Regions from separate parts of the Homo sapiens genome. Here all the other regions are reported to be linked to region 2. Evidence: microRNA targets listed by miRTarBase, many of them from high-throughput screens and not tested one by one. Region 2 holds a microRNA gene; each other region holds the end of a gene's coding sequence.
Evidence for each region. The annotated mature microRNA hsa-miR-769-5p reads UGAGACCUCUGGGUUCUGAGCU and lies in region 2 at 2,186-2,207, opposite strand. An mRNA with a match to its seed (bases 2 to 7 or 8) in the 3' UTR can be bound and repressed. Matches are read on the target gene's strand: a 7mer-m8 pairs with bases 2 to 8, a 7mer-A1 pairs with bases 2 to 7 and ends in A, and an 8mer does both.

Region 1 (4,066 bases), not on the chromosome of region 2:
AAATACAAAAATACAAAAAAAAAAAAAAATTAACCAGGCGTGGTGGCAGGTGCCTGTAATCTCAACTACCCAGGAGGCTGAGGCAGGAGAATTGCTTGAACCCGGGAGGTGGAGGTTACAGTGAGCCGAGATCACACCGCTGTACTCCAGCCTGGGCGACAGTGCAAGACTCTGTCTCAAAAAAAAAAACCTCACTCAAGGCCAGGCGTGGTGGTTCACACCTGTAATCCTAGCACTTTGGGAGGCTGAGACGGGCGGATCACCTGAGGTCAGGAGTTTGAGACCAGCCTGGCCAACATGGTGAAACCCCATCTCTATTAAAAGCACAAAAATTAGCCGGGTGTGGTGGTTCCAGTACTGGGGTTCTAGTACTTGGGAGGCTGAGGCAGGAGAATGTCTTGAACCCGGGAGGTGGAGGTTGCAGTGAGCCGAGATTGCGCCAGCCTGGGCGACAGAGCAAGACTCTGTCTCAAAACAAAACCAAACAAAACAAAAAACTCACCCGAAAGTAACCTTTATTGGCCTTATTAAATTGACAGTGGTTGCTTTTTGTTCTGCTTTTGGTTTCTAGACATTTGGATGGAGGATTACATAATACAGAGAAAAATCTGGACATCTAAGGCCTTCCTACTCAAAGTGTGGTCTGTGGACCAGCTGCATTGGGGTTAGAAATGAAAAATCAGCTGGGTGCGGTGGCTCATGCCTATAATCCCAGCGCTTTGGGAGGCTGAGGCAGGAGGATTGCTTGAGCCCAGGAGTTTGAGACCAGCCTCGACTACATAGGGAGACCCCATCTCTATAAAAAATAAAAAATTAGCCAGGCGTGGTGGTGCATGCCTATAGTCTCAGCTACTCCAGCAGCTGAGGTGGAAGGATCGCCTGAGCCTAGAAGGTCAAGTCTGCAGTGAGCCATGATGGCATTACTGCACTCCAGTCTGGGCAACAGAGTGAGACCCTGTCTTAAAAAAAAAAAAAAAGAAAAAGAAAAAAAGAAAGAAAGAATTGAACAATCTCAAGGCCCACCCCAGACCCATTGAATTGGAATCTGCATTTCAGCACAATGCCCAGTGAATTCTCACCTATATTAAAGTTTAAGAAACATCTGGGTTTCTCAGCAACATCCCCCTGCACGTCTGTGGATAATGTTGGTCCCTCAGATGTATGTGGCATTTATCGCATCCCGTCTGGTGTGGAAATCTGTGCCTATGGTTTCTTTCCCTGCCAGGCTGTGACTTCCTGGAAGGTAAGGGCTGAGCGCTGTGTATAGCTCTGGATCTCTTATAGCACAATGACAGGAAGCAGAAGACCTGGGTTTCTGTCCTGGCTCTGCCATTTATGAGCTCTTTGTGTTGTATCATCTGTGAGAGGATTTTCGATCTTTCCAAGAAAGGGATTCACCCCAAATCTAACTGTTTAAAAGTCAGAGACAGGCCAGGCGCGGTGGCTCACGCCTGCAATCCCAGCATTTTGGGAGGCCAAGGTGGGTGGATCACCTGAGATCAGGAGTTCGAGACCAGCCTGGCCGACATGGTGAAACCCCATTTCTACTAAAAATACAAAAAAAATTAGCCGGGTGTGGTGGTGGGCACCTGTAATCCCAGCTACTCAGGAGGCTGAGGCAGGAGAATCTCTTGAACTCAGGAGGTGGAGGTTGCAGTGAGCCAAAATCGTGCCATTTCACTCCACCCTGGGCAACAAGAGTGAAACTCTGTCTCAGAAAAAAAAAAAAAAAGTCAAAGATGGGGCCGGGCACAGTGGCTTATGCTTGTAATCCCAGCACTTTGGGAGGCCAAAGTGGGCGGATCATTTGAGGTCAGGAATTCAAGACTAGCCTGGCCAACATGGTGAAACCCTGTCTCTAATAAAAATACAAAAACTAGCCAGGTGGTAGTTGTGCGTGCCTGTAATCCCAGCTACTCAAGAGGCTGAGGCAGGAGGATCACTTGAGCCTGGGAGGCAGAGGTTGCGGTGAGCCAAGATTGCACCGCTGCACTCCAGTCTGGGTGACAGAGAGAGACCCTGTCTCAAAAATAAATAAATAAATAAAAATAAATAAAAGTCAAAGAAGGTGGAAGACTCCTGTACCTAGTTTATTTCCGGGCTTCATCTACAGGAGAAGGCACTTATGGATGGAAGGAAGAAGACAGTAACCAATTCTAGAGTAAATGATATCCAGGGTATATGAGGAACTTGGGTTATAGTTGCCCCAACAGCTTCCCCAAGGCTTTTCTAGAAGTTTCCAGCTTTGCTGAAAGTTCCTGTCAGCATCAAAAGCAAGCCGAGGCCAGGTGCAGTGGCTCACACCTATAATCCCAGCACTCTGGGAGGCCGAGGAGGGTGGATCACTTGAGCCCAGGAATTTGAGACTAGCCTGGCCAACAGGGCGAAAACCCGTCTCTACTAAAAATACAAAAAATTAGCCGGGTTTGGTGGCTTATGCCTGTAGTCCCAGCTACTTAGGAGGCTGAGGCAGGAGAATTGCTTGAACCTGGGAGGTGGAAATTGCAGTGAGCCAAGATCACACCACTGCATTCCAGCCTCTAAAAAAACAAAACAAAACAAAACAAACAAACAAAAAAAGCAAGCCAATAATTATCATGGGAGAAGCACGGCAAGGTCTCTGTGCTCTGCAGATGTGTTCTGAAGCTCAGGTCACAGATGGAGCTGTGAGGGACACATTGCTAGGGCCTGGGCAGGTTCTGAGGCTCAGGACTTTCAAAGGGCCATGGAAGTCAGAGTGCTGCTGTAATCTTCAGAAAGCCCACTCAAGAAAGCCCACTCAGAAAGCCCAGCTCAAGAGGATCTGTTCCCTGCCTAGAGGGATATGATCTGGAGTCCTCAAAGGCCCCCACAGCCAGCTGTGAACAGGGAATAGCAGAGAGTTTGGGAAGAGATGAGGAAAGAGTAGGGAAGAAATATTTCTATTAGGCCACTGCAAAAGTAACTGCAAAAACCACAATTACTTTTGCAGCAACCTAATACGTAGTATGGAAGTAATATCTGCTGAAGCCAAATGGTGTATCAACAGTTCTGCACGTGTGACTCGGAGGTGGGGGTGGGGTAAGGTTTGTGTTGATCTGGCATTTTTCAATTTGGAAAAGGCTGGGAGATCCAGATGGGAGAGAAGGAACTCAAAGCAAACGTCTGCCAGCCCACTGTCAAAGATATGACACCTCAGGTCTAAGGCGCTGCAGTTTCTTTATTTTTTCTTTTTATAGAGATGGGGTCTTGCTGTGTTGCCTGGGCTGGACTCAAACTTCTGGGGTTAAGCGATTCTCCCACCTCAGCCTCCCAGAGTTTGCAGATTACAGCCATAAACCACCGTGCCCAGCCCTCTGCAGTTTCTAAAAGAGGTTCATCAATACAAATTCTCAGCATCATTCTCCAATTAGGCTCCCCCATTAACCAATTGTTTCTAATGACCGATTATTAATTTGCAAGAGAATTCTTCCTCTAACTCATACCATCCCACTCAGACAGAGTTCAGTATTTTCCTTCACTTTAATTTTTATTGCTTCTCCAGTTCAGATAATTCAGCGCTTCCTCTTTCTTCTTCCTCACCTTGTTCATGGCTGGCTGTTCCATCAGCAGAACTACAAAACCAGAAAGGCAACAAAATTTGAAAGGTTTCTCGGCATCCTCCAAGGAGGCTGTGGGGGAATATGAAAAAGAAGGTGGTGTCTGGAGCCACACAGACCAGAGTCCAAAGCCCAGCTCTGCCATTATTAGCTGTGTGATCTTGAACAAATCACTCACCTGTAAAATGAGCTCATAAAGCTTGTGAATGTGAGAATGATATCAGGTAATAAATGAATGGCAATTCGGTGCCAGGAATGTGCTGAGCTCTCAATTTATGGTCAAGAACATCACTGGGATGGCTACTAATCACTTGGTTAGACTTTTGGTCTCCCACATGGCAACGGAGACCAACTGAAAATGTGTTCAGAAGTCTGTAGTTGTTACCTCTAGTGGATCCTGTCCCTCCAACTAGTAAGAGTCAAGGAAGAGGAGCTGGATTTAAAGCATTCAGAATGTCCTTTCTCTAACAGTAACAAAATCACAAGAG
Region 2 (4,066 bases):
CTTTTAGGATTCCGAATCTGGTTCTAACGTTCTGAATCCCCTTTCCATGTCACGTCACCTTCTCTCTCTGAGCCTCGTTTCTTCACCTGTAAATGGGGCTTCTGACTGTACCCGCTTGGCGATGGTGGCTGAGGTTTCAATGAGATGCATTCATGCAACAAATGACCAGGGAGAACCAACCACCCCCGACCCCAGCACCATCATGCCAGGCTCCGGGAATATGGCAGGGCCATAACCAGCCAGTCCCAGCAGCCAGCATCACCAGCAGGGCCATAACCAGCCAGTCCCAGCAGCCAGCATCACTGGGGCCAGATTCTGGGAGCTGGCTTCCTAAGCAGCAGATTCGGGACTCAAGATTCGGAAGTTCCGACATTCTGTGCGTCATTAATGACACTGTGAGCGCGGGGGCTGAGTTGGCACATACTGCAGCTCCAAGGCACTGATCTTCTAGTTCATTCCCATTTGCCAAGTCAGACACGCTCAATCAGATGTGCTGAATGAATCAGCCTTAAGGATCTGCTGCCAGGCTTGGGAACCTCAAAGAGGCAGGTGCTGGGGCTCCAGGGTCGGTATCTGGTTACGACCCCAACTTTGAGTCTGTGATCCTGTCCCCCAGTGGACCCCGAGGGCAGGAAGCAAGCTGGGGCAAAGGCAGAGTTCTGAGAGGCAGGGGGCTCTGAGTAGCTTGTACAAATTATGTCGCTTTCTGAGTCTCTGCTCTCTCTGCTTAAGATGAGGATGATAAGAGTCCCTGCCTTGGCTGGGCACGGTGACTCATGCTTGTAATCCCAGCACTTTGGGAGGCCAAAGGCGGGCAGATCACCTGAGGTCGGGAGTTCGAGACCAGCCTGGCCAACATGGTGAAACCCCATCTCTACTAATAATACAAAAATTAGCCGGGTGTGGTGGCTCATGCTTGTAATCCCAGGTACTCAGGAGGCTGAGGCACGAGAATCACTTGAACCCAGGAGGCAGAGGTTGCGGTGAGCTGAGATCACGCCACTGCACTCCAGCCTGAGCAACAAGAGTGAAACCCCGTCTTAAAAAAAAAAAAAAAAAAAAGTCTCTGCCTCAGAGGGCTGTCCTGCAAGGATTCAGTAAAACAGGACTTCCACAAATCCTCTAGGGAGGCAGGAGAGAGCAACGCACAAGATCACATGGGTGGGGACCATGGAGGCCTGGTTAAAAACCCCAGCTGTGCCCCAGACAGGCTGTGTGACCCCGGGGCAGGTGATTCTACCGCTCTGATTCTGTCTATATAAAACGGGGGTGATAGTGACTCACAGGGTTGCTGTGAGGATGGAAAAAGGTGTATGCAGAGCTGTGCTTGGCACATGGCAGGGGCCCAATAAATGACCACAGTCATTGTTACTATCGTGGGAAATTAACGGGTGAGAAGGATGCTGGGGAAGTTGTGTGCACCACGGCAGTAACGGAGGCAGGGTGAGTGGAGGAAGGAGGAGGAGTCCTCCTCGGGAAACCCTCCCTCACTCATCAAGCCCCCCCACCTCCCCATGCAGCTTCCTGATTGGAGAAGACGGGCTCGTATACGAGGGCCGTGGCTGGAACTTCACGGGTGCCCACTCAGGTCACTTATGGAACCCCATGTCCATTGGCATCAGCTTCATGGGCAACTACATGGGTGAGTGACTGTCCAGCCAGTTGGGATGGGGGCTGACACGGGGCCCTACGCTATCACTTCCCCTTCGGGGAAGCCCCTGCCTGACTCCTACCTCTGCCTCCTCCAGATCGGGTGCCCACACCCCAGGCCATCCGGGCAGCCCAGGGTCTACTGGCCTGCGGTGTGGCTCAGGGAGCCCTGAGGTCCAACTATGTGCTCAAAGGACACCGGGATGTGCAGCGTACACTCTCTCCAGGCAACCAGCTCTACCACCTCATCCAGAATTGGCCACACTACCGCTCCCCCTGAGGCCCTGCTGATCCGCACCCCATTCCTCCCCTCCCATGGCCAAAAACCCCACTGTCTCCTTCTCCAATAAAGATGTAGCTCAAAATGTGTTCCTCAGCAGGTCCCACCACACACCTCCCCTCCTTCTCTCCCTCCCACAAGACCAAAGCCCTCCCACCCCTTCCCCTCCCAGCACTCTCCTCACTGGTGCTTGGAACCCAGAGGCCCCGGCCCTGAACCAAGACCCCGGAGATCCCAGCTCGAGAGCAACATCACAGCTCAGAACCCAGAGGTCTCAGGTCAGAGCCCAGGAATCAGCACCAAGGCGGCCGGGATGTCACCAACAGTGGGTCCTGGGGGTCCTCCTGGGCAGTGAACCACGCTGCAAGACACCTCCTTCCCACCACACAGCCAAAGGCATCCTGCGCAGAAACTTTGCTTGGACTCCTTTAGGGACGGGCTGCTCACTACTCCTCCCAGGTCTGCCCTTGCACTGTTTAGAGAGTGTACAAGCTTTTCCTAGGCCTGAGTCCCAATCTGCCTCCGAGGCACAGACACACAGGTCCCAATTATACCCCCCAATTTCTCTTCCTCCACATTTCTCCCCACTCCACCCTCACCCTTTAGTCATAAGCTGAGGGGTCCCCAGGGCAAATATGTTTATTTACAAAATGCACACATCCTCCCTCCCAGCATGCACTGCCTGGGGAGAGGGCAGGGTCAGGGCCTCACACACCTGAGACCCCAGGGGCAGCAGGAGGGACGGGGCCAGGGCAGGGACTGGGCAGGGCTGGAGGCCACCCTGGCCCCACCCCCCACACCATACCCAGCAAGTGGGTGGGGGATGGAGGGGTAGTACCCCTTCTCCACGTTATGACCGCATGTCCAGTCGGTTCATGTACTCCTGCAAGGCCTTCAGGCGTGCGTCTATTTCGGCCATGTCAGCCGCCTGGTGCTCCGAGCTGTACTCTGTGAGAGCAGGTGTGGGTATGGGGGCTGTGAGGGGCCTGAAGCCCCAGGGAGTTCCTGGGCCCAATATACCACTGCCCGCACTACCATTCCAACGGGTCCTGGGGCTGGGAGAGGGGATGTGGAGTCCCAGGCTCACCTTTGATGGGGACCCAGCCCCCGGAGTTGGCCAGAGATTTCTGATGGTGGCTGCGTTCCACGGGGGGAGACTTCTGGTGATGGGGAAGGTAGGAAAGGGGGTCACCCACCGTCCCTCTATTTCTGTCCCCCTAAATCCCACTGGAAATCCTGAGCCTAAGGACCTTGGGGAAAAATAAGGCCTGACACCTACTGGCCATTCATTATCTGCAAAATAACCTCCTAATGTCCTCACAGAGCCCTCACCTCACATGTGAGGTGATGCCATTACCAACCCTGGTTAACTGATAAACAAAAACTAAGGTACAGAGAGGCTAAAGAACTGCCTTGAACCATACAGCTGGGAAGAGGAGGAGACAGGTTTCAAGACCTGACAGTCAGAAGCCAAAGCCCTAAAGAGCATCACGTGCCCCTCATTATTCCTTCTCCAATCTAATGCTCTCAAAACGTGCTGTTCCCAGGCCAGGTGCGCTGGCCCAGCCTGTAACTCCAGCGCTGTAGGAGGCTGAGGATGGCTTGAGGCCAGGAGTTCCAGACCAGCCTGGGCAACATAAAGAGACAATACCACCCCCTTATCCTGTCTCAACCCCACCCTGCCCCCCCAAAAAAGCCTAGTCCCAGCTACTCCATAGGCCGAGGTGGGAGGGTCTCTTGAGTCCAGGAGTTGAAAGCTGCCGTGAGCTACAATTGCCCCACTGCACCCCAGCCTGAAAGAGCGAGACGCACTCTTAAAAAAGCCCTATTGCCAAAGGCATTCAGAGTCGCCTCTGCACCTGATCCCCAGGAAGGAATCACAGGAAATGGGGGCAGCTGTGTTCCAGTGGTTTATGTTGCCCCTTCTACTCACCATATTGGACCCACTCCAGGGCGTTGGGCTGGGAGGCTTCCCACGGCGGCGGTGACCCCTGAGAAAAAGGAGTAACCAAGGACCAGTGGTGGGGAGGCTCTGGTACTTCCCACCTCCCCGACCTTTGTGGTTTCAAGGCCCCCAGGCTCCATCACCCAATTTCCCTGCAAAAGACTGTTTCTAGTCTCCCCAGAAACCCTTTG
Region 3 (4,066 bases), not on the chromosome of region 2:
AAGGGGCATAGAAATTTCATTCATCCCTAAGAAAAACTTAGTCCTCAGGATCCTGATTCCAGATACAAGAGAATTTGAAGCACATAAAATAAAAGCACTATTTATTTATTTACCTATTTATTTATTTATTAAGTAGAGACAGGGTCTTGCTATGTTGCCCAGGCTGTTCTCCAACCACTGGGCTCAAGCAATCCTCCTGCCTCACCCTCCTAAAGTGCTGGGATTACAGGTGTTAAGCCAGGGTGCCCCGCTGAAACAAACTATTTTTAAGCGTTTAGTGGAAAGGCACAAAACGTTTTGTCGAAAATGATTAAAATCTATGTCATCATTAAATATTAATTGTACTTAATTGTAACATTTTAAGGGAAATGTTATGAATGACACTAGGCTATGATAACCTAGTTCATCTTCTTGCCATTTTTCCATATATGAAACTTCAGAACCAATCATTAGAAGATCACTAAGAAAAAAAAAATCGCCAAGACTCTTAGTGGAGATTTAATCTTCCATAAAACCAAACTCAATGCATTTTAGAACTAATGTGGCCTCTCAAAAATAATCTTATTAATGTATCATTCCAAAACCTGCTTTGATTTATCCCTGTGAAGGAAACATATGGCCTCTCTCTGGAGAGACATACACATAAGCATGTTGGCAAATGATGGTGTCACTCAAACACTCAATAGTGCCTTCTGCTGGTGCAGAAGTGTTTTTTTTTTTTTAACAAATTCGATTTGAAAATACTTTTCTTATAAACTGAAAAATAGAAGTAATCTTGTCTTTTTCATTCTTTAAGTACCAACAGGGGCAAATTTAGAGACTAACTTGTATATTTCTTCAAATTCCAAGTAGCTCATATTATCCTTGCTGGAATTCATATTTATGATAGTCAAAATGTTTAAAAAGTATTACCTATTTTGGTAAGACAATTATAAATGTTTATTGTTGGGTAAAATATACAAAATAGAGCAAGGCGTAGTGGTGCAAGCTTGTAGTCCCAGCTACTTGGGAGGCTGAAGCAGGAGGATTGCTTGAGCCTAGGAGTTCGAGTCCAGCCTGGGCAACATAGCAAGACCCTGCCTCTAGAAAAATAAGTTTTAAAAAATCCAATTCACTTAAATGTGGTTTTATTGATGGACAGTTTCTTCCCAGAAAAGCAAAAGCAGTCCTAAAATATCCATGAATCCTTGACTTGTTAATGGTTCCTACCAAAGGAATATTACCTAGTCTTTATATAGAAAATCATTTTGACATAGATGTGCATTTTCATTAAAATTTTAATATTACTATTTTAATATACTTAATGTATTGCTTCTGAAAATGTAACCTACCACTGAATTTGATCATCTATCTATATTCTCCCCACAAAAACTAAATTGACTTCCTGGTACACATTGAACATCACACACAAATGTTTAAAATACTAAATATCACACACAAATGTTTGAAATATTGACTTTATTAGGAAAACATTTGATAGTTCTATTCGGTCATATAATCAATCACCTAATTTTAAAACTATGTGGCCAGAGGACATCAATTACAATATGGATTTTTCATTCATTCAACGAATATTTGAGCACCTACAAGTGCCAGACATTGGAGGTACAGGGTAAACAGGAGGATCCTTGCTCTCACGGAGCTTACATTCTAGCAGGAGGACAATATTAATGTTTATAGGAAAATGATGAGTTTATGACAAAGGAAGTAGATAGTGTTTTACAAGAGCATAGAGTAGGGAAGCTAATCCAGCACAGGGAGGTCACAGAGACATCCCTAAGGAAGTGGAGTTTAAACTGAGAGAAGCAAGTGCTTAAACTGAAGGATGTGTTGAAGAAGAAGGGAGAGTAGAACAATTTGGGCAGAGGGAACCTTATAGACCCTAAGGTGGGAAGGTTCAAAGAACTGAAAGAGAGCTAGAACAGCTGGAGCCGTTCTCCGGTGTAAAGAGGAGTCAAAGAGATAAGATTAAAGATGTGAAGATTAAGATCTTGGTGGCATTCAGGGATTGGCACTTCTACAAGAAATCACTGAAGGGAGTAATCTGACATTACTTTTCACTTCAGGATGGCCATTCTAACTCCAGGGGGTAGACTGGACTAGGTAAGACTGGAGGCAGGTAGACCTCTTCTAAGGCCTGCGATAGTGAAAGACAAAAATAAGTGGGGAAATTCAGGGGATAGTGAAAATCAGTAGGACTTAATGAGCAAGCCAGAGGTTCCTCCACAACAACCAGTACAGATGTCCAGTAGACCTACTGGATATGCAGGCCTGCAGCTCAGGGGAGAGCTGGGTTAAGAACCGTCAAGGCAGTAATCATCTGCATTTAGATGGCGAGTGAAGCCATGACAGGGGCTGAAATGGCCCAGCAAGAATAAATCAAACCATGAGAAACACATACATTTAAGAATAAGGAGATGTGGTCAGGCGCGGTGGCTCACACCTGTAATCCCAGCACTTTGGGAGGCCGAGGCGGGTGGATCACTTGAGGTCAGTAGTTTGAGACCAGCCTGGGCAACCTAGTGAAATCCCGTCTCTGCTAAAAATACAGAACTTAGCTGGGTGTGGTGGTGCGTGCCTATAGTCCCAGCTGCTTGGGAGGCTGAGGCACAAGAATCGCTTGAACCCGGGAGGTGGAAGCTGCAGTGAGCCGAGATCACACCACCGCACTCCAGCCTGGGCAACAGAGAAACACCCTGTCTCAAAAAAAAAATAATAATAAGGAGATGTCATGGGCTCGGGGGAGGGGGAAATGGGGAGCGCTGTTGTTTGAATGGTATAGTTTCAGTTTGGGACTGAGAACAAATTCTGGAGATGAATGGTGGTGATGGCTGCACAGCAGTGTGAGGGCACTTTATGCCACTGAAGTAACAGATGCCTTTCAAAAATAAGCCCGCTAAAATATCACCAAGCATAACCAGCAAAACAATCATTTCAGTGAAAATACAACTTTATATTAATCATCTCAATAATACAGATTACAGAACTGAGTTTACAGATTACAGAACTTTTCATACTTTGTGGGTCAGAAAGGATAACCGTAAATTACTGTCTCCGCTTTATGGGTGGTAAAACTGAGCCACAGAGAAATTTCTCTAAGAAAATTTAAAAGGAATTGATGTTCATTAAATAAATATCCTCACTGATTTTTTTAAGGTAGAAAAGTACAATGCACAGTGTTAAAAAAATTACTGTAACAGCCTCATGTTCGAGAAGTCTAAAATTTTAAGGCTACTACATGTGTTAATTTTCAGTACATGTCCAACAGAAAACATCCTTTATTCCAGTTACATCCTGAAGATACCGAAGTCAGTCTTCTCTATTGGTGCGTTGAGGGCTGCACTAAAACTGAGACCCAAGACCAGTCTGGTGTCTGCTGGATCAATGATCCCATCATCCCATACCCTGACAAAAGAACAAAAAAAGAGTTATGAATTTACCACCAAACTACCATTTATACACTCTCCATGTGCAGAAATGCCAAGGAAGTTTTCCTTCAGGTAATATATGGATCTACTGATTAGCATCCATGTACCATAATCTCACAACAGAAACTACGTTCAAGACAGAGGGGGAAAACGTGGAAAAAAATGATATGACCTTCATCCCAGGCCACCACAGAATGTCATGTCAGGCTTAAGGCTTAAGGAACTACTTTTATAAGAGATCTCAAAGTAACCCCTAATTTGACAATACGTTTACTTATTTCAGGAAAAATTTTCCTATTCCTTTTCTTCCCACACAAATATATAAGCCAAGTTGGTGTATTCTGTCATTAATATGCAGAACCACATATACCCAGGTAATAACCTCAAACTTTACTGGAAAATGTATATTCCCCAACCCCCATCCAAACTCTTAAGAAACTATGAAAATTATTGAATAGGCTTCAGTACATTTTATCTTATTTATTATTATTATTATTTTTGAGATGGAGTCTCGCTCTGTCACCCAGGCTGGAGTGCAGTGCAGTGGCACGATCTCAGTTCACTGCAATCTCCGCCCTCTGGGTTCAAGCAATTCTCCTGCCTCAGCCTCCCTAGCAGCTGGTATTACAGGAGTGCGC
Region 4 (4,066 bases), not on the chromosome of region 2:
ATCTTTGTGGTTTCTAAATCTGATCTAGGGAGACCATAGACTTCACAAGGTCTTTATTCTCTGTACGATTTAAGTAACACTTTTCATGTTTAGAATTAAAAGGTTGTTGAATTGGGAAAGTTTTTCTGGATTGTCCTGGGAAAATATACCAATCTTACATGTAATTACTTGAGCAATTACACACAGCTTGTCACTAAGTTATGTTTTTTGTTTACCCATTGCTTTTATTGATTTTTGTATTCTCCTTTTTTACCAAACATCATAAACGCTGAGTTTTGACAAGGGTGGAGTAGAAAGGAGTGTGAAAAATGGTTAAACTAATATAACATTTTTCTCAACAGTGGAAACAAGGAAAACTGATTAAGAGAAATGAGCACGCATGGAAAAGTTTCCCAGTCTTCAGCAGAGAAGTTTTCTGGAGGTCTCTGAACCCAGGGAAGACAAGAAGGAAAGATTTTGTTGTTGTTTGTTTATTTGTTTTTCCAGTAGTTAGCTTTCTTCCTGGATTCCTCACTTTGAAGAGTGTGAGGAAAACCTATGTTTGCCGCTTAAGCTTTCAGCTCAGCTAATGAAGTGTTTAGCATAGTACCTCTGCTATTTGCTGTTATTTTATCTGCTATGCTATTGAAGTTTTGGCAATTGACTATAGTGTGAGCCAGGAATCACTGGCTGTTAATCTTTCAAAGTGTCTTGAATTGTAGGTGACTATTATATTTCCAAGAAATATTCCTTAAGATATTAACTGAGAAGGCTGTGGATTTAATGTGGAAATGATGTTTCATAAGAATTCTGTTGATGGAAATACACTGTTATCTTCACTTTTATAAGAAATAGGAAATATTTTAATGTTTCTTGGGGAATATGTTAGAGAATTTCCTTACTCTTGATTGTGGGATACTATTTAATTATTTCACTTTAGAAAGCTGAGTGTTTCACACCTTATCTATGTAGAATATATTTCCTTATTCAGAATTTCTAAAAGTTTAAGTTCTATGAGGGCTAATATCTTATCTTCCTATAATTTTAGACATTCTTTATCTTTTTAGTATGGCAAACTGCCATCATTTACTTTTAAACTTTGATTTTATATGCTATTTATTAAGTATTTTATTAGGAGTACCATAATTCTGGTAGCTAAATATATATTTTAGATAGATGAAGAAGCTAGAAAACAGGCAAATTCCTGACTGCTAGTTTATATAGAAATGTATTCTTTTAGTTTTTAAAGTAAAGGCAAACTTAACAATGACTTGTACTCTGAAAGTTTTGGAAACGTATTCAAACAATTTGAATATAAATTTATCATTTAGTTATAAAAATATATAGCGACATCCTCGAGGCCCTAGCATTTCTCCTTGGATAGGGGACCAGAGAGAGCTTGGAATGTTAAAAACAAAACAAAACAAAAAAAAACAAGGAGAAGTTGTCCAAGGGATGTCAATTTTTTATCCCTCTGTATGGGTTAGATTTTCCAAAATCATAATTTGAAGAAGGCCAGCATTTATGGTAGAATATATAATTATATATAAGGTGGCCACGCTGGGGCAAGTTCCCTCCCCACTCACAGCTTTGGCCCCTTTCACAGAGTAGAACCTGGGTTAGAGGATTGCAGAAGACGAGCGGGAGCGGGGAGGGCAGGGAAGATGCCTGTCGGGTTTTTAGCACAGTTCATTTCACTGGGATTTTGAAGCATTTCTGTCTGAATGTAAAGCCTGTTCTAGTCCTGGTGGGACACACTGGGGTTGGGGGTGGGGGAAGATGCGGTAATGAAACCGGTTAGTCAGTGTTGTCTTAATATCCTTGATAATGCTGTAAAGTTTATTTTTACAAATATTTCTGTTTAAGCTATTTCACCTTTGTTTGGAAATCCTTCCCTTTTAAAGAGAAAATGTGACACTTGTGAAAAGGCTTGTAGGAAAGCTCCTCCCTTTTTTTCTTTAAACCTTTAAATGACAAACCTAGGTAATTAATGGTTGTGAATTTCTATTTTTGCTTTGTTTTTAATGAACATTTGTCTTTCAGAATAGGATTCTGTGATAATATTTAAATGGCAAAAACAAAACATAATTTTGTGCAATTAACAAAGCTACTGCAAGAAAAATAAAACATTTCTTGGTAAAAACGTATGTATTTATATATTATATATTTATATATAATATATATTATATATTTAGCATTGCTGAGCTTTTTAGATGCCTATTGTGTATCTTTTAAAGGTTTTGACCATTTTGTTATGAGTAATTACATATATATTACATTCACTATATTAAAATTGTACTTTTTTACTATGTGTCTCATTGGTTCATAGTCTTTATTTTGTCCTTTGAATAAACATTAAAAGATTTCTAAACTTCACTCATATTGTTTCTCCTTCCTATACTGTTACAATACATTTTACTTATCTTTAATTCTATGTAATTTAAAACACTAACTCTGCTCCTCTCTGACTGGCAGAGAAGGCCCTCATTCCCCAATACCATTTCCTTGGCTCAACCTTTCTCCAAGTTCAGTTCCCTTCTAGTTATCCCTTCACAGCACCAATGGCTTCTGGGGTCTTTAGAAAACACAAATATTTCCCTATCTAAATTCTTCCCTATCTAAATTGTTTCCTAAACATAAAATAAAGGTTTCTAAGCATGACAGATGACCTTCTTTCTGTCTCATCCCATTCCTGATCAGCACTTTAACTTCCCTTGTCCCTCAAATTCACTATAGTCAGGTGTTCAGTTCCCTAACTGGGCATGTTCTTTCCTAGGCCCATGACTTTGGATTTGCTAGGGCCACTACCTGCATATAAGAAGAGGCTTATTCATCCTTAAGAACTCAGCTCAAGTAATACCAGCTCCTTGGCAGAGCTCATGGCTTCCGATTTGATATTCTCATGACATCTCATTATCTGAATTACAACAAAAAAACTGCATTGCTCTTATTTGTTTATAGGTTTCTTCATCCACTCTAGCTCTCCCAGAACATTAACCATATTATATCTACCGCTGCATCCCCAATGTAGCATTAATGCATGAATTAATGAATTAACAAGTTATCCTGATCTTCAGGCTGTCAGATACTGTTCTAAATTCAATAACCTGGTTCATGGTAGATGTCATTTTTTTTTTTTTTGAGACCGAGTCTTGCTCTGTTGCCCAGGCTGGACTCCAATGACATGACCTCAGCTCACTGCAACCTCTGCCTCCCAGTTTCAAGCGACTCTCCCGCCTCAGCCTCCCGAGTACCTGGGAGTACAGGCACCTACCAGCATGCCCAGCTAGTTTTTGTATTTTTGTAGAGATGGGATTTCACCATGTTGGCCAGGGTGGTCTTGAAATCCTGATCTCAGGTCATCAGCCCGCCTCAGCCTCCAAAGTGTTGGGATTACAGGCATGAGCCACCCTGCTCGGTTTTAATTAAATTATAACTTGTTTACCCTCTTTTCTCCTTGTCTAGCAGTAGTCCAACAAGGAGTTTGGCATGCACAATCCTCTCAATCTATAATACCTCCCCTCACTTTTACCAGGGTAGCTACCATCCTTCCTTCTGGAATAGCTTGCCTTTTACTTTCTTGAGGAAACCTCTCCAACCCTTACTCCTACCTTTGAGGAGGACCCTTTTATACCCTCTCATAGCATTCTGTACTTTTCCTTCATGAAGTTTTCTCACCGAAGTTACTGTAGAGTTTATTGAGCCTGTGTGTTTATTGTCATCCGTTTAAGGTCTCTCTGTTCTAGCTTCATGTAAGCCTCATGAGGGCGGGGACAATGCTTATCAACTTCATCTCAGTTCCTAGGACAGTGCCTAGCACATACTAGGTATTCAAAAAGCAAGTGATTTTGGCTAAACAAGTCCCCTTGTCACTCTAAAATTAAAAGAGCAATTTCATTTAAATACATATTCTTAGGTTATACTTAACATTTCCCTATCTAAATGACAAATGAGGTTCTGTCTCATCCCAATCTTGATCAGTACTTCAACTTCCCTTGTCCCTCAAATTTACTATATAAATACCTAAGAATAGGTATTTATATGAAATTGCTCTTTTATGAAACACAAGAAAAGGAAAGAAAGAAGA
Region 5 (4,066 bases), not on the chromosome of region 2:
TTCCTATAGCGCCCAGTAGAACTGACAGTACCTGTCTCTGTGGCGCAATCGGTTAGCGCATTCGGCTGTTAACCGAAAGGTTGGTGGTTCGAGCCCACCCAGGGACGCTTGTTTGAGCTTTTAAAGTATTCATGCATTGTCAATCACTAGATAAATGGGGAAGATTTTATCTTCCTGGAGTCCTAAGCCACTAATTTGTGACTTATCCATGTCAAGGGCCAGACCACCTCCCCGACCGGATTCTTAACCGGGTATCTCCTGAAATCCTGGGTTTATATGTGTGTAACTCAGGAATCCTGAAACAGAGACCTAGGAACCCACTTCTGGTGTGATAAAATTCTAATTCAGTCCGTTATACGCTTAAACGAGTAATTTACATGCCTCCATTTTTTCATATGTTAATAATAGGAGGTCAGTAATATCCCGAGGATGTGCCTGGATTTACTGATTGCTCTATCAATAATGTGACCAGTGGAATCATTCATCATCATAGTGATCCTCTCCATCATTTTTGAAGAGTATTTTTCCTCAGTTTGTGCATGATTTATTTAACCCTTTTCAAAATGTTTTTGTTAGCCAGGCATGGTGGCATGTGCCTGTAATCCCAGGTACTTGGGATTCTGAGGCAGGAGAATCATTTGAACCTGGGAGGTGGAGGCTGCAGTGGAGGCTGCACCAGTGGAGGCTGCACCACTACACTCCCGCCTGGGCAACAGAGCGAGACTCCATCTCAAAAAAAAAATAAAAATAAAAAAATAAAGTTTTTGAGATGAGGTAGGTTTCATTGTTTTAGGATTACAAAGAATGCTGCAGCCACCTTTGTTGTACACATATCTGGTCATTGTGGAAATGTCTACACCGCAGATATTTCTATAGTGTAGGGAAGTTGATGCACTATCGCTACATTATAGGCTTTACATGATGCTTCTAATTTGAGTACATTCTGCAAATGTATCTTTCACGGGAGCCGTACCAAATAATATTCCAATAGCAATATTTATAGGAGGAAAAATGTGCAGAAGTGCAATTGAGCTTCGTGCCTCTCCATGGGGTCCATGTTCATAAAATGGTGGCATTAGCAATCATCTGAGAGTGGAGTTTGTGGCCCTCTGACATCAAAAGCTGAAGCAGAGGACATGAAAACCCTCACTGTGCATCCTCTCTAGTCTGGCCAGAATCATTCCTAGGTCGGTGGTCTCTTATCAGGAGGGAATGCTGCTTGCTTGTTTTGTCAAAATCACAAAACTGAGGGAAAGCATCAGGCCGTTGGTTGGTAACAGTGGTGAAGCAAGTCTTTCCAAAGGGCTGGTTTGTTGTTAACCCTTAGGGAAAAAAAAAGCCTTTTTTTTTTTTTTTTGAGACGGAGTCTCTCTCTGTCCCCCAGGCTGGAGTGCAGTGGCGCGATCTCGGCTCACTGCAAGCTCCGCCTCCCGGGTTCAGGCCATTCTCCTGCCTCAGCCTCCCGAGTAGCTGGGACTACAGGCGCCCGCCACCACGCCCGGCTAATTTTTTTTATTTTTAGTAGAGATGGGGTTTTACCGTGTTAGCCAGGATGGTCTCGATTTCCTGACCTCGTGATCCGCCCGCCTTGGCCTCGCAAAGTGCTGGGATTACAGGCATAAGCCACCGCGCCCGGCCAAAAAAGCCTAATTCTTACCAGCTGGTGCCGTGCAGTACCAGGCTCTTGGTGTCCCAAACAAAGACACCAAGAGCCTGGAACTGCACCAAAAACCAAAACCAAGGTAGGGGCAAGATGATAATCACAGAATGTCAACGGTATATGTTTAGGTTCAAATACTATTATGAGAAGGGGCAGGTAAAGGAGGTAGGAAAAAGAAAACACATCATGTAATTGACTGTTGTATGGAAATATTTGATGCTGAAAGTTATAATTTAAAACTATAAACCAAATATTAGAAGTGTGTCTAGTTCAAAGGGAGGAAAACCATCAAAAACATTTTTAGTGCAATATTTAACATGAGCTATACAACCCTTCCTAAATGCCAAAGGCACACACAGACACACACGCAGACACACAGACACACACACACTCACACTCACGAAGAATACAAATGACTAGAACCAAGAAATGTAAATACATTCTGCTACGTATGGTAAACATAGCCTACAATGTGGAAGAGATTAGAAAATAAACATGGAAATGAAATGTTTTTATTAATTCGCATCAGTACCCACCAAAACCAATCAGCATAATCAAATATTATAACACTGAATGTAAAAAACAATCCAGAAGTCCAGAGTGATAGGCAAAAGGTTTTAATTGTATAGATTAAAATTAACTTTGGACAAAAATTAAAACTCAGGCAGAGAATGTTTTCTTCTTTTTGCAACAGCAGACACTAGTAAAAACAAAGGCACAGTAAAAATTGAGACCCAAAATTTGCAGTGTAGAGATATGAATATAATAATAGACACAGGCAGGGAGGATTAATAAATGATAAAATGTTTAGAGGATGATCATTAGAATACAGGATATTTATACTCTTGAAAACCGCTTTCCCAAGTACTTCATTATAAGTAAGGTGTCTCTAAAAGGGACAGATCTCCTAGACCCCTCCTTAACCAAGTAACCAGTCCTGATATCATAATGGTGATGGACAAACTAGACCTTCTCTGCCCGCAGATGGGCTGAGGTTGGAAACTCACAGCATTGTCTCTGCAGTGTTCCCGGCAAAATGTTTAGGCTGAATTTAATCATGAAGACATTTTCAGACAACTTCAGAATGTAGATCATTGAGCCAGACAGCTGACCTGTCCTCTATAAACAAGTCCATGTCACCACCATCCATGACAACAACAAAAAGATGAGGAAATATTTGGGGTTCAAAATAACTAAAGAAATGCAGCTACATTATCTTTTTACTTTTTTTGAACCCAAAATATCTCTTCTCCTTTTTGTTGTGTGATTTGTGGTGATATGGACTATGTGAAGGAGACAGGTCAGTTGTCCTGCTCAGTGTTCTACATTCTGCAGTTGTCTGGTGATTACCTCCTATGAAACTCAGGCTAAGTGTTTTCTGCAAGAACATGGCATTGTTCATATTCTGCACCGGCAGAGTCCTGGGTGACATGCTGTCTCCTGCCAGCGGCTCCTGACTCCTGTTCTCTACAGGATGGAATTGAGAGGAGCAGGGCTAAGGCCTCCCAATGCTGTTTGTCCATCTAGCTGTGGTCTTCCTAAGTACTGACACCAATTGGAGGCTGAAGGACTGTGGCTTCTCTAACCAAAGGAGCCTAGCGGGTTAACAATTGTCAAGAGCAGTTGGTGGTTCTGAAATACAATCCTCAGCCAAGGATCCCTCCTGTGTTACAGATGGATCAGCTAAAACAAGCCAACACTGAAGACACAAAGAATGAGGTTAGGTTCATTGAAACCAGGGTAACACCTTTGGATGAGCTAAACACAAAGATGACAATGACCTTGAGCAGGTATAGAAGCTCAGAGACATGCCTGCAAAATGAAATCCCTGAGGAATTTTGTAGCTACCCAGAGATACGTGGTTCAAATTAAAATGTCTGACTGATCACTCCCGGCATGTTCTGCACAGTTATGTGAACGTGTCACACCTAACATGGGTCCATTGTCTTCAGATTGAGCACAGGTTGCCAATGGCATGGTTTGAGAATAGGAATAGAGCCATGCTCACTGACCCATCCTATGTCTGGGCTTCCAAATGGAACTGTACTTTCATTCAAATCTTCTCGTGCCTATAGGTCCTGCCTGCAGGAATGACATCTCTCGGCTTAGTAAGAGCTGCTTATTGTGGGAATATGACTCCCATCTGGAACACCAGGTGGAGACTTGTCACCGTCAAAGTAAAAAACCTATTGTCCACGTAAAGGGCGAAGCTGATATGCTCTTCCTCAAATGAGTAAAACACACTTCTGTAGTGCTGGAATGAGTCAGGTTGTTCAAAGTACATTGACGGAGTCGAATAACATCTATCCAGTGAGTCCTGTAAGACTTCAGGCTCTTCCACTTCCATCAGCACGCCGTAGAGCCTGGAAAAGGAGACAAAACTAAAGAAGCAGCCAGGGAAAATCA
Region 6 (4,059 bases), not on the chromosome of region 2:
GGGCTGTCTTCGGAGAGGAGAATGCGCTGGAGGCATAGAAGCGAGGTCCTTCAAGGGCCCACTTTGGAGACCAACGTAACTGGGCACTAGTCCCAGCTCTGTCTCCTTTTTAGCTCCTCTCTGTGCCTCGGTCCAGCTGCACAACGGGGCATGGCCTGGCGGGGCAGGGGTGTTGGTTGAGAGTGTACTGGAAATGCTAGGCCACTGCACCTCCGCGGACAGGTGTCACCCAGGGCTCACCCCTGATAGGCTGGGGCGCTGGGAGGCCAGCCCTCAACCCTTCTGTCTCACCCTCCAGCCTAAAGCTCCTTGACAACTGGGACAGCGTGACCTCCACCTTCAGCAAGCTGCGCGAACAGCTCGGCCCTGTGACCCAGGAGTTCTGGGATAACCTGGAAAAGGAGACAGAGGGCCTGAGGCAGGAGATGAGCAAGGATCTGGAGGAGGTGAAGGCCAAGGTGCAGCCCTACCTGGACGACTTCCAGAAGAAGTGGCAGGAGGAGATGGAGCTCTACCGCCAGAAGGTGGAGCCGCTGCGCGCAGAGCTCCAAGAGGGCGCGCGCCAGAAGCTGCACGAGCTGCAAGAGAAGCTGAGCCCACTGGGCGAGGAGATGCGCGACCGCGCGCGCGCCCATGTGGACGCGCTGCGCACGCATCTGGCCCCCTACAGCGACGAGCTGCGCCAGCGCTTGGCCGCGCGCCTTGAGGCTCTCAAGGAGAACGGCGGCGCCAGACTGGCCGAGTACCACGCCAAGGCCACCGAGCATCTGAGCACGCTCAGCGAGAAGGCCAAGCCCGCGCTCGAGGACCTCCGCCAAGGCCTGCTGCCCGTGCTGGAGAGCTTCAAGGTCAGCTTCCTGAGCGCTCTCGAGGAGTACACTAAGAAGCTCAACACCCAGTGAGGCGCCCGCCGCCGCCCCCCTTCCCGGTGCTCAGAATAAACGTTTCCAAAGTGGGAAGCAGCTTCTTTCTTTTGGGAGAATAGAGGGGGGTGCGGGGACATCCGGGGGAGCCCGGGTGGGGCCTTTGGCCCTGGAGCAGGGACTTCCTGCCGGATCTCAACAACTCCGTGCCCAGACTGGACGTCTTAGGGCCAAGATCGACGTTGGAGGACCTGCTGGACGCCTGGCTGCTTACGAGTGAGGGAGTAGAGTCTGCCTTAGCAAGGCTCAAGTAGAAAGGAAGTCACAGCGGACCAGGCAAAGCCACAGACAATCCAAGGCCAGGTGCCCTGAAAGGGGCTCAAACAAGGCCTGCAGCCCTGTCTGAGGCGGGCCAGGAAACAGGGTTGCTTTAGCTGGGAGCAGTGGGTTCCCCGTCCCCAGAGGTGTGTCCGTATAGAGCCTTCTCCAGCCCAGCCGCTGTCAGCGGGGCGGGACGGAGCGGGGCGGCCTCAGGGAGCCAGCCACTGGGATTGGGGTTTGGTCCCGGGTGCAAGTGAAGCGCTTGGAGTTTGCGCCTGTCCTCCTTTACTAATTCAAAAACCTCTCAAACAGACACTTCCCTTTTCTTCTCACAAGGCCAGTATCCCCCTCCCACTACTCCCATCCCGCCCAGAAACAGCCGCGGCTTCCTCAGGCACAGCAGTGGAAGCCAGTCCTCCACCCCCTGCGGCTCCATGCCATGCCACCCCCTCTTTCTGCCAGCCCTGGCAGAAGCTGGCCTGAGTAAGAAAATTCACCACCACCTCTTGCAGGTACATTTTTATTTCCAAGATGCTCTCATATCTGTGCTCTCACTGCATCCTCCCTTCCCCACATCCTGGCTAGATTGCCATCAGACGCAGAGCATGGATGAGGACACTGAAGCCTGGACCTGTGACGTCGCTTGCCCAGTGAACAGCAGGATGGGCTAGGCCGCGCTTTTTAGACCCTGCACCCCTGGCCATCCATGATTATTGAAAAGAGTGCGCGGGTCGGGTGCGGTGGCTCAAGCCTGTAATCCCAGCACTTTGGGAGGCTGAGGTGGGCGTATCACTTCAGGCCAGGAGTTTGAGACCAGCCTGGCCAATATGGTGAAACCCTGTCTCTACTAAAAATACAAAAAAAATCAGCTGGGCATGGTGGCTTGCACCCGTAATCCCAGCTACTAGGAAGGCTGAGGCAGGAGAATCGCTTGAACCTGGGAGGCAGAGGTCACAGTGAGCCGAAATCATGCCACTGCACTCCAGCCTGGGCGACGGAGCAAGACTCCAGCTAAAAAAAAAAAAAAAAAAAAAAGAGTGTGTGGCCTGGCACTCAAGTTCACATGGGTGTGCAGGCATGCCTGTGTATTCTCACATGACCTCCCTGCTCACGGTCCCTCCTTGCACTCATGTCTGAATGTCCCCGCGTGCACGCACATGGCTTCACAGATCTGGGCAGTGCCTTCCCTACCCTCTCTCTGCAGGGCCTTTTGCCCCCTCATGCAGGCCCCTGGATAATCGGCCCCATCCCCATGTCCCCATCTCCAGTGTATCTTAGCTACCCTAGGTAAAGGAGTGGGCTTTTTAGTTCCTAACCTTCCAGAGCTACAACAGCAGTCATCCAGCCAGGTCTGGGTGGGAACATTTTCTAGATACGGGTGCTGAGATCTCTCAGCCCAGAGAGAAGCCCTGGGGAATTTTCAGAGAGAAAGCAGTCTCCAGGTGGGGCTGGATGTACTGATGCCACTGAGATCTGTAAAGGAGTCCCTAACACCTGACATAGGAGTGACAAAACTGTTTTCTGCACCAACTGAGCAGAATACACGCAGCTGACCTGGGCTCAAGGTCTGGCCCTGCCACGTGCTGGCTCTGTGATGCTGGCCAAGTGCCTTCGCCTCTCCGGGCCACAGTTTTTTGATCTGAAGAGTGGAGCCCTACTCAAGCCATCTGCAGCTCTCGGGCTCTCTGACCTGACATCTTTCGGGTGGTGGGGACACAAAGGAAGCAGCCTCTATTGGGAGACCTTGTGCTTCTTTTTGGTCCCAGGACACTGCCCCCCACCACTCCAGTCCGGGTCCCAAGGGCCCAGTCAGCTCAACTGTAATCATGACAACATTGATCAAGCATCTTTACGTGCAGGTGCTGTGCCAAACGGTTCGAACGCTCTCTCATTTCAATCTCACGGCAAACCTACGGTGGAGGGGGTACGGTTGTATCCACTTTACATGTAAGAAACTGAGGCTGATATCAAGTGGTGGAGCCAAGAATAGTGCCTCGTTGCATCTTACTCCAACCTCTAGCCCATCCGGCCTCCTCCCTTCACGTGCGCCTAAGAGGGCTAGGGGGCCTGGATAGGGGAGGTCAGCTCCACAGTTTTGAGTAAACACACACAGTCTCAACTCTGATGACAACTTAAGTGCCAGGCATAGTGGCTGGCATGGGGCACACACTCAAGTCATGTTGTGCAGCACCTAACAGTTTATCAAAGTATCAGCAAACTTATTGTCCTGTTTGACCTTCCGCACAAAGCTGTCAAGGAAGGCAGGGTACGGAGGGTGATTCCTACCTTAGAGATGAAGAAACTGAGGCCCAGAGACTGCCCAGCTACCAGAAGGTGGATAGAGCGCTGGCCTCCATGCCTGCCTGACCTGGAGTCTGTCCAGTGCCCACCCACAGAACAGCCTCGGCCCTTTCCCATGCCCAGACACAGATGGCACACTTGCGACGGCCCACTCATAGCAGCTTCTTGTCCAGCTTTATTGGGAGGCCAGCATGCCTGGAGGGGGGCCAGGCATGAGGTGGGGTAGGAGAGCACTGAGAATACTGTCCCTTTTAAGCAACCTACAGGGGCAGCCCTGGAGATTGCAGGACCCAAGGAGCTCGCAGGATGGATAGGCAGGTGGACTTGGGGTATTGAGGTCTCAGGCAGCCACGGCTGAAGTTGGTCTGACCTCAGGGTCCAAATCCCAGAACTCAGAGAACTTGTCCTTAACGGTGCTCCAGTAGTCTTTCAGGGAACTGAAGCCATCGGTCACCCAGCCCCTAAATCAGTCAGGGGAAGCAACAGAGCAGGGCATGAGAACTCCTCTGTAGGCAACCATGGGACCCACACCCATGTCCCCACTGGACGACACCAGTCAGGACCACACCACCCT
Region 7 (4,066 bases), not on the chromosome of region 2:
CACCTGTGTCCATTTCCTCTCCTTTCTCTTGCAGCAAGTCAAAACCGTGAGATTTCAGAATTACAGCCCTCCTCCCACCAAACATTACACCTCCCATCCCACCTCCGGAAAGCCTGAACAGCCAGCCACCCTCAAGGCGTCCCAGCCTGAAGCAGCGTCCTTGGGCCCAGAGATGACCGTCCTATTTGCCCACCGAAGTGGCTGCCACTCCGGACAGCAGACAGACCTCCGGAGAAAGTCAGCTCTTGGCAAGGCCACAACCCTGGTGTCCACTGCCTCAGGCACGCAGACCGTGTTTCCCAGCAAATGAACCTACGGGTGGCTTTTCCTAGACCCCAAAGAGGTGAATTGCATTTAAATACAGTCTGCCTCCACTGAGGGCATCCTGCCATTCTTTGGGGACTTGAGCATGGGTCCTTGTTCTTCCTATTTCACCTCCAGGAAAGCAAAAGTGGGAGCAGAAATTCCTGCCCTGGGTGGGAGGATAGATGGCGTGGCCTTCCAAACATACAAACATAATGATTTGATGCCACAAAGCTCGCTTACTCAGACCAAGGAGTGAAAAATTGTCGTGCCCACTTTATGCCCCAGCATGGAGTATGTGGCCTCTTGTCATCCCCGTGTTACTGTGTAGAATTTCTATGGTGTCCTAAAGGGGGCTGCAGCAGGGGTGTGACAACGGTGGGATTGTTGGCGTTGCTTCTTTGACCTTACAATATCCTCAACAAGCATTAGAACAACTTCTGCCATCTTCTGGGGCCTGTACACTGGCCACTAGTAGCTGCCATATCTTTTTCCCTCTGTAAAGTCATAATCCTGGCTGCAAAGGGAGGATTTCTGCGCGGGGTGTGAGGTGGATACTTTGAACATTCTGAGAACCCAATAAAACTAGAAGGAGCCAGCTTCCTGAGTATGCTCCACTTAAGAAGGTCAGAGAGATCACTGAGTACCAAATATCAAAGGATTATCATACTTTAAGCTTCTCGATCCATTTTCCCACATATAATCCTATGCAATAGATAAGCAGAAAGCATGTGGCTGTGGATAGGGCCATGTATGGCATTATGGACAATTAATTCATCCTGGCTCTACAGTCTGACTTCAAGAAAACACAGCGTGCTTACAAACAATCTTATATGGGGTTAGGGTTTAGATATATAGTCTGACTTCAAGAAAGCACAACGTGGGCCAGGTGCAGTGGCTCATGCCTATAATCCTGGCACTTTGGTAGGCCGAGGTGGGCAGACCACTTGAGGTCAGGAGTTTGAGACCAGCCTGGCCAACATGATCAAACCCCATCTCTACTAAAAATACAAAAATTAGCCAGGCATGATGGCGCACACCTGTAATCCCAGCTACTCTTGAGGCCGAGGCATGAAAATAGCTTGAACCCGGGAGGCGGAGATTACAGTGAACCAAGATTGCACCACTGCACTCCAGCCTGGGTGACAGAGTGAGATTCTGTCTAAAAAAAGAAAAAAGAAAAAAAGAAAGCACAACATGCTAAAAAACAACTTTATATGGGGTTGGGGTTAGGATCTATATTTGGATATATATTGTTTGCATTGCAATATTCCTGACTTTCCCTGCTTTCTTCTCACTTGGGGCAGATGAGCTATTTCACTCACAAGGCAACAACACCAGTGCGAACATGGCAGCCCGAGGCTGGGGTGGGAGTGCTTCCTAGGGGAAAGCTGCTATAAAAAGGGTAGGACAAAGAAGGCTGGAGGAGAAAACAGGGGAGAGGAGAAGGAGAAAGAGGAGGGGTTAAAGAAAATGTGGAGGAAAGAAAGTAGGCATAAGAGTAAGAGTGAAAGAGGATTGAGGGAAAGCACAGGAAGAGGCTAAAGGAGACAAGGGGTGGGGCAACCTTACATTCCCTGACAGGGTGAGGAAAGAAGGACAGAGCCTGCGATGAAGAATGGGGCAAAATTAGATGACCCCACTAAGATGGAACTGACGTGAGCAGGACCAGCCAGGGAGAGCCTTGTAATCAGGGTAGAGGAGGCATCCCAGGAAGCCAAGGCAATGCTGTGAGACAACCCATTAATTCTCATTAAACTTAATTGTTGTGATTTAACATTTATTGCATGCCCATCAATGTGGGCACTTTAACGCAGAAATAACATTTGCTACTAAGGCTGGGTGCCATAGAAAGAAAGAAAAAGAAAGGAAGGAGGGAAGGAAGGAAGGGGGAGAGAGAGAGAGAGAGAGAGAGAGAGAGGGAGAGAGAGAGAGGAGAGAGAGAGAGAAAGAAAGAGAGAGAGAGAAAGAGAAAGAAAGAAAGAAAGAAAGAAAGAAAGAAAGAAAGAAAGAAAGAAAGAAAGAAAGAAAGAAAGGAAGGAAGGAAGGAAGGAAGGAAGGAAGGAAGGAAGGAAGGAAGGAAAGGAAGGAAGGAAGGAAGGAAGGAAGGAAGGAAAGAAAGAAAGAAAGAAAGAAAGAAAGAAAGAAAGAAAGAAAGAAAGAAAGAAAGAGAAAGAAAAAGAAAAAGATGCAGGGAGGGAGGGAGGAAGGGGCATGTCTAATTAGACCTTTCCCCTAGATAGTTCTTGAAAGTCCTGGGATTCAAAACATGTATCTTTTACACACCCACTCACACACTCGGCAAACAGAATTGTCCACAGACTTTTTCCAGACCTTAATAAAACAAAACAAAACCATACTCCTCCCATAAAATACTGCCATTGTGTCAGACCTTTGGGGCTGGTAGAGCCAACATGACAGCACGTTGTTCTAGCTATCTCAATCACGTTTGGGTCCACATCTCACAAACTTTGGGTCAATATCTGATGTTTGTGGACCCAAACAAACATGAGATATTGACCCATTAGGTCCACAAAATCAACATGCCCAAATCCATGCCTCATTGAACTAAATATAATAATCCAGATGGAGAAATGAGATAAAGTCCCAAGGACAGGGAGGCATTGTGTGATTTGTCAAAATATAAGTACCTATACCTCATCTTTACCCAAAAAGCACTCTCAATGAGTTTAGCAATGTTTAGCAGTCTACTCTACACTCAGAGTGGCACAGATATGGCATGACTGGCCGACCAAATATTTAGTCTATCCCTCAGTGGCAATGTATCCAGTTAATTTTTAAGTTTTGTGGCTGACAAGCAGGGTGCTTAGATGGAATGGAGATGTCCATGCCTTCCAAATGAAATGAAATATTCTTCTCCCACCATCTATTTATTATCTCTTTGGGATAACCTCTCTGAGAGATGCAAACAACTCCAAGACTTGCCACCTCCACTCCCTCCAGTCTCTTCACCCATGTGCAGCATCAAACTCACCCTCTCCCAAAGAAAATCCCATCTTTGTGGAGTTTTAAGAGGGTTTGAAAGGGACAAAGGATGTTTTTTCCAAGTAAAAGTTGGCTTCACTGGCAGCTTTAACTCATTCATTCCACCAACATGCTTTGTAAATTTATTGTTTTATTTTTTGTAGAGATGAAGTCTCACTGTGTTGCCCAGGCTAGCCTCAAACTCCTCGGCTTGGCCTCCTCATGCCTTGGCATCCCAAGTGCTGGGATTACAGGCGTGAGCCACCACACCCAGCCCCAACATGTTTTTAATATTTACTGTGTGCTAGACACAGCAAGGAAGATGATAAACACATCCCCTCATGTAATTTCCACCATATCCCTATAAGGCAGGTAGATTGTCCCCATTTCAGAGCCAAGGAAACTGAAGCTTGAAAGTTAACCACAGATGATGGCAGAGCAAGGACACAGTCTCAAACTGTCTGACTTCAGAGCCCAACTTGGGACTTGCTCCATGAACCAAAAACCCATCCTTGACTTCAGGATGCTGACTCTGGACTGCCAGGAGGCAGCAGAGTGCATTTTTGGCTGCAAATGCGAAAGAGCCTAGAACGCTCGGCTGCGCACAAATACAGTTCAGGTCTTCATTTACCACTTTCTGGCCATGGGATGTCAGGCCAGTTACTTAATCTCTCAGAGCCTCGTTTTCTTACATAGGAATAATACAGTGTAGTGCCAACCTCAATGGGCTATTATGAGGATTATCTGAGATAATGATACAAAGTGACTTAAACAGTGC

Region 1: miRTarBase lists TCEA3 as a target of hsa-miR-769-5p. The part of its 3' UTR that is shown has no 7-base or 8-base seed match.
Region 3: the mRNA of MCCC2 is a reported target of hsa-miR-769-5p. Seed matches in the 3' UTR shown: 7mer-A1 at 2,501-2,507.
Region 4: miRTarBase lists CXCL5 as a target of hsa-miR-769-5p. Seed matches in the 3' UTR shown: 7mer-m8 at 420-426.
Region 5: miRTarBase lists NBPF15 as a target of hsa-miR-769-5p. Seed matches in the 3' UTR shown: 7mer-A1 at 2,389-2,395.
Region 6: the mRNA of APOC3 is a reported target of hsa-miR-769-5p. The part of its 3' UTR that is shown has no 7-base or 8-base seed match.
Region 7: miRTarBase lists SH3RF2 as a target of hsa-miR-769-5p. The part of its 3' UTR that is shown has no 7-base or 8-base seed match.

The regions. Positions count from the first base shown.
Region 1 is chr1:23,377,882-23,381,947 of GRCh38, forward strand. It overlaps TCEA3 (transcription elongation factor A3), which reads right to left. Exons shown (of 11, transcript NM_003196.3): 11 at 3,028-3,593. The coding sequence ends at 3,585. Among named protein-coding and RNA genes, the nearest start is that of ZNF436, 10 kb to the left of the region's middle. RefSeq lists an enhancer at 304-373.
Region 2 is chr19:46,017,102-46,021,167 of GRCh38, reverse strand. It overlaps MIR769 (microRNA 769), which reads right to left and starts at 2,236; the gene lies at 2,119-2,236. It overlaps CCDC61 (coiled-coil domain containing 61), which reads right to left. Exons shown (of 14, transcript NM_001267723.2): 12 at 3,864-3,921; 13 at 3,018-3,090; 14 at 2,552-2,878. The coding sequence ends at 2,781. PGLYRP1 (peptidoglycan recognition protein 1) reads left to right here. Exons shown (of 3, transcript NM_005091.3): 2 at 1,521-1,642; 3 at 1,749-2,015. The coding sequence ends at 1,930.
Region 3 is chr5:71,656,082-71,660,147 of GRCh38, reverse strand. MCCC2 (methylcrotonyl-CoA carboxylase subunit 2) reads right to left here. Exons shown (of 17, transcript NM_022132.5): 17 at 1,442-3,405. The coding sequence ends at 3,288. Among named protein-coding and RNA genes, the nearest start is that of CARTPT, 61 kb to the left of the region's middle.
Region 4 is chr4:73,993,931-73,997,996 of GRCh38, reverse strand. It overlaps CXCL5 (C-X-C motif chemokine ligand 5), which reads left to right. Exons shown (of 4, transcript NM_002994.5): 4 at 342-2,355. The coding sequence ends at 360. Among named protein-coding and RNA genes, the nearest start is that of CXCL5, 2.7 kb to the left of the region's middle.
Region 5 is chr1:144,419,234-144,423,299 of GRCh38, forward strand. It overlaps NBPF15 (NBPF member 15), which reads right to left. Exons shown (of 22, transcript NM_001385408.1): 22 at 2,157-4,023. The coding sequence ends at 3,780. It overlaps TRN-GTT3-1 (tRNA-Asn (anticodon GTT) 3-1), which reads left to right and starts at 34; the gene lies at 34-107. RefSeq lists a silencer at 83-142.
Region 6 is chr11:116,832,651-116,836,709 of GRCh38, reverse strand. It overlaps APOC3 (apolipoprotein C3), which reads right to left. Exons shown (of 4, transcript NM_000040.3): 4 at 3,638-3,946. The coding sequence ends at 3,826. It overlaps APOA1 (apolipoprotein A1), which reads left to right. Exons shown (of 4, transcript NM_000039.3): 4 at 299-959. The coding sequence ends at 902. It also overlaps APOA1-AS. Among named protein-coding and RNA genes, the nearest start is that of APOA1, 2.9 kb to the left of the region's middle.
Region 7 is chr5:146,062,392-146,066,457 of GRCh38, forward strand. SH3RF2 (SH3 domain containing ring finger 2) reads left to right here. Exons shown (of 10, transcript NM_152550.4): 10 at 35-901. The coding sequence ends at 310. All of the region lies in intron 1 of LOC107986458 (a long non-coding RNA gene), which reads right to left. Among named protein-coding and RNA genes, the nearest start is that of PLAC8L1, 41 kb to the right of the region's middle.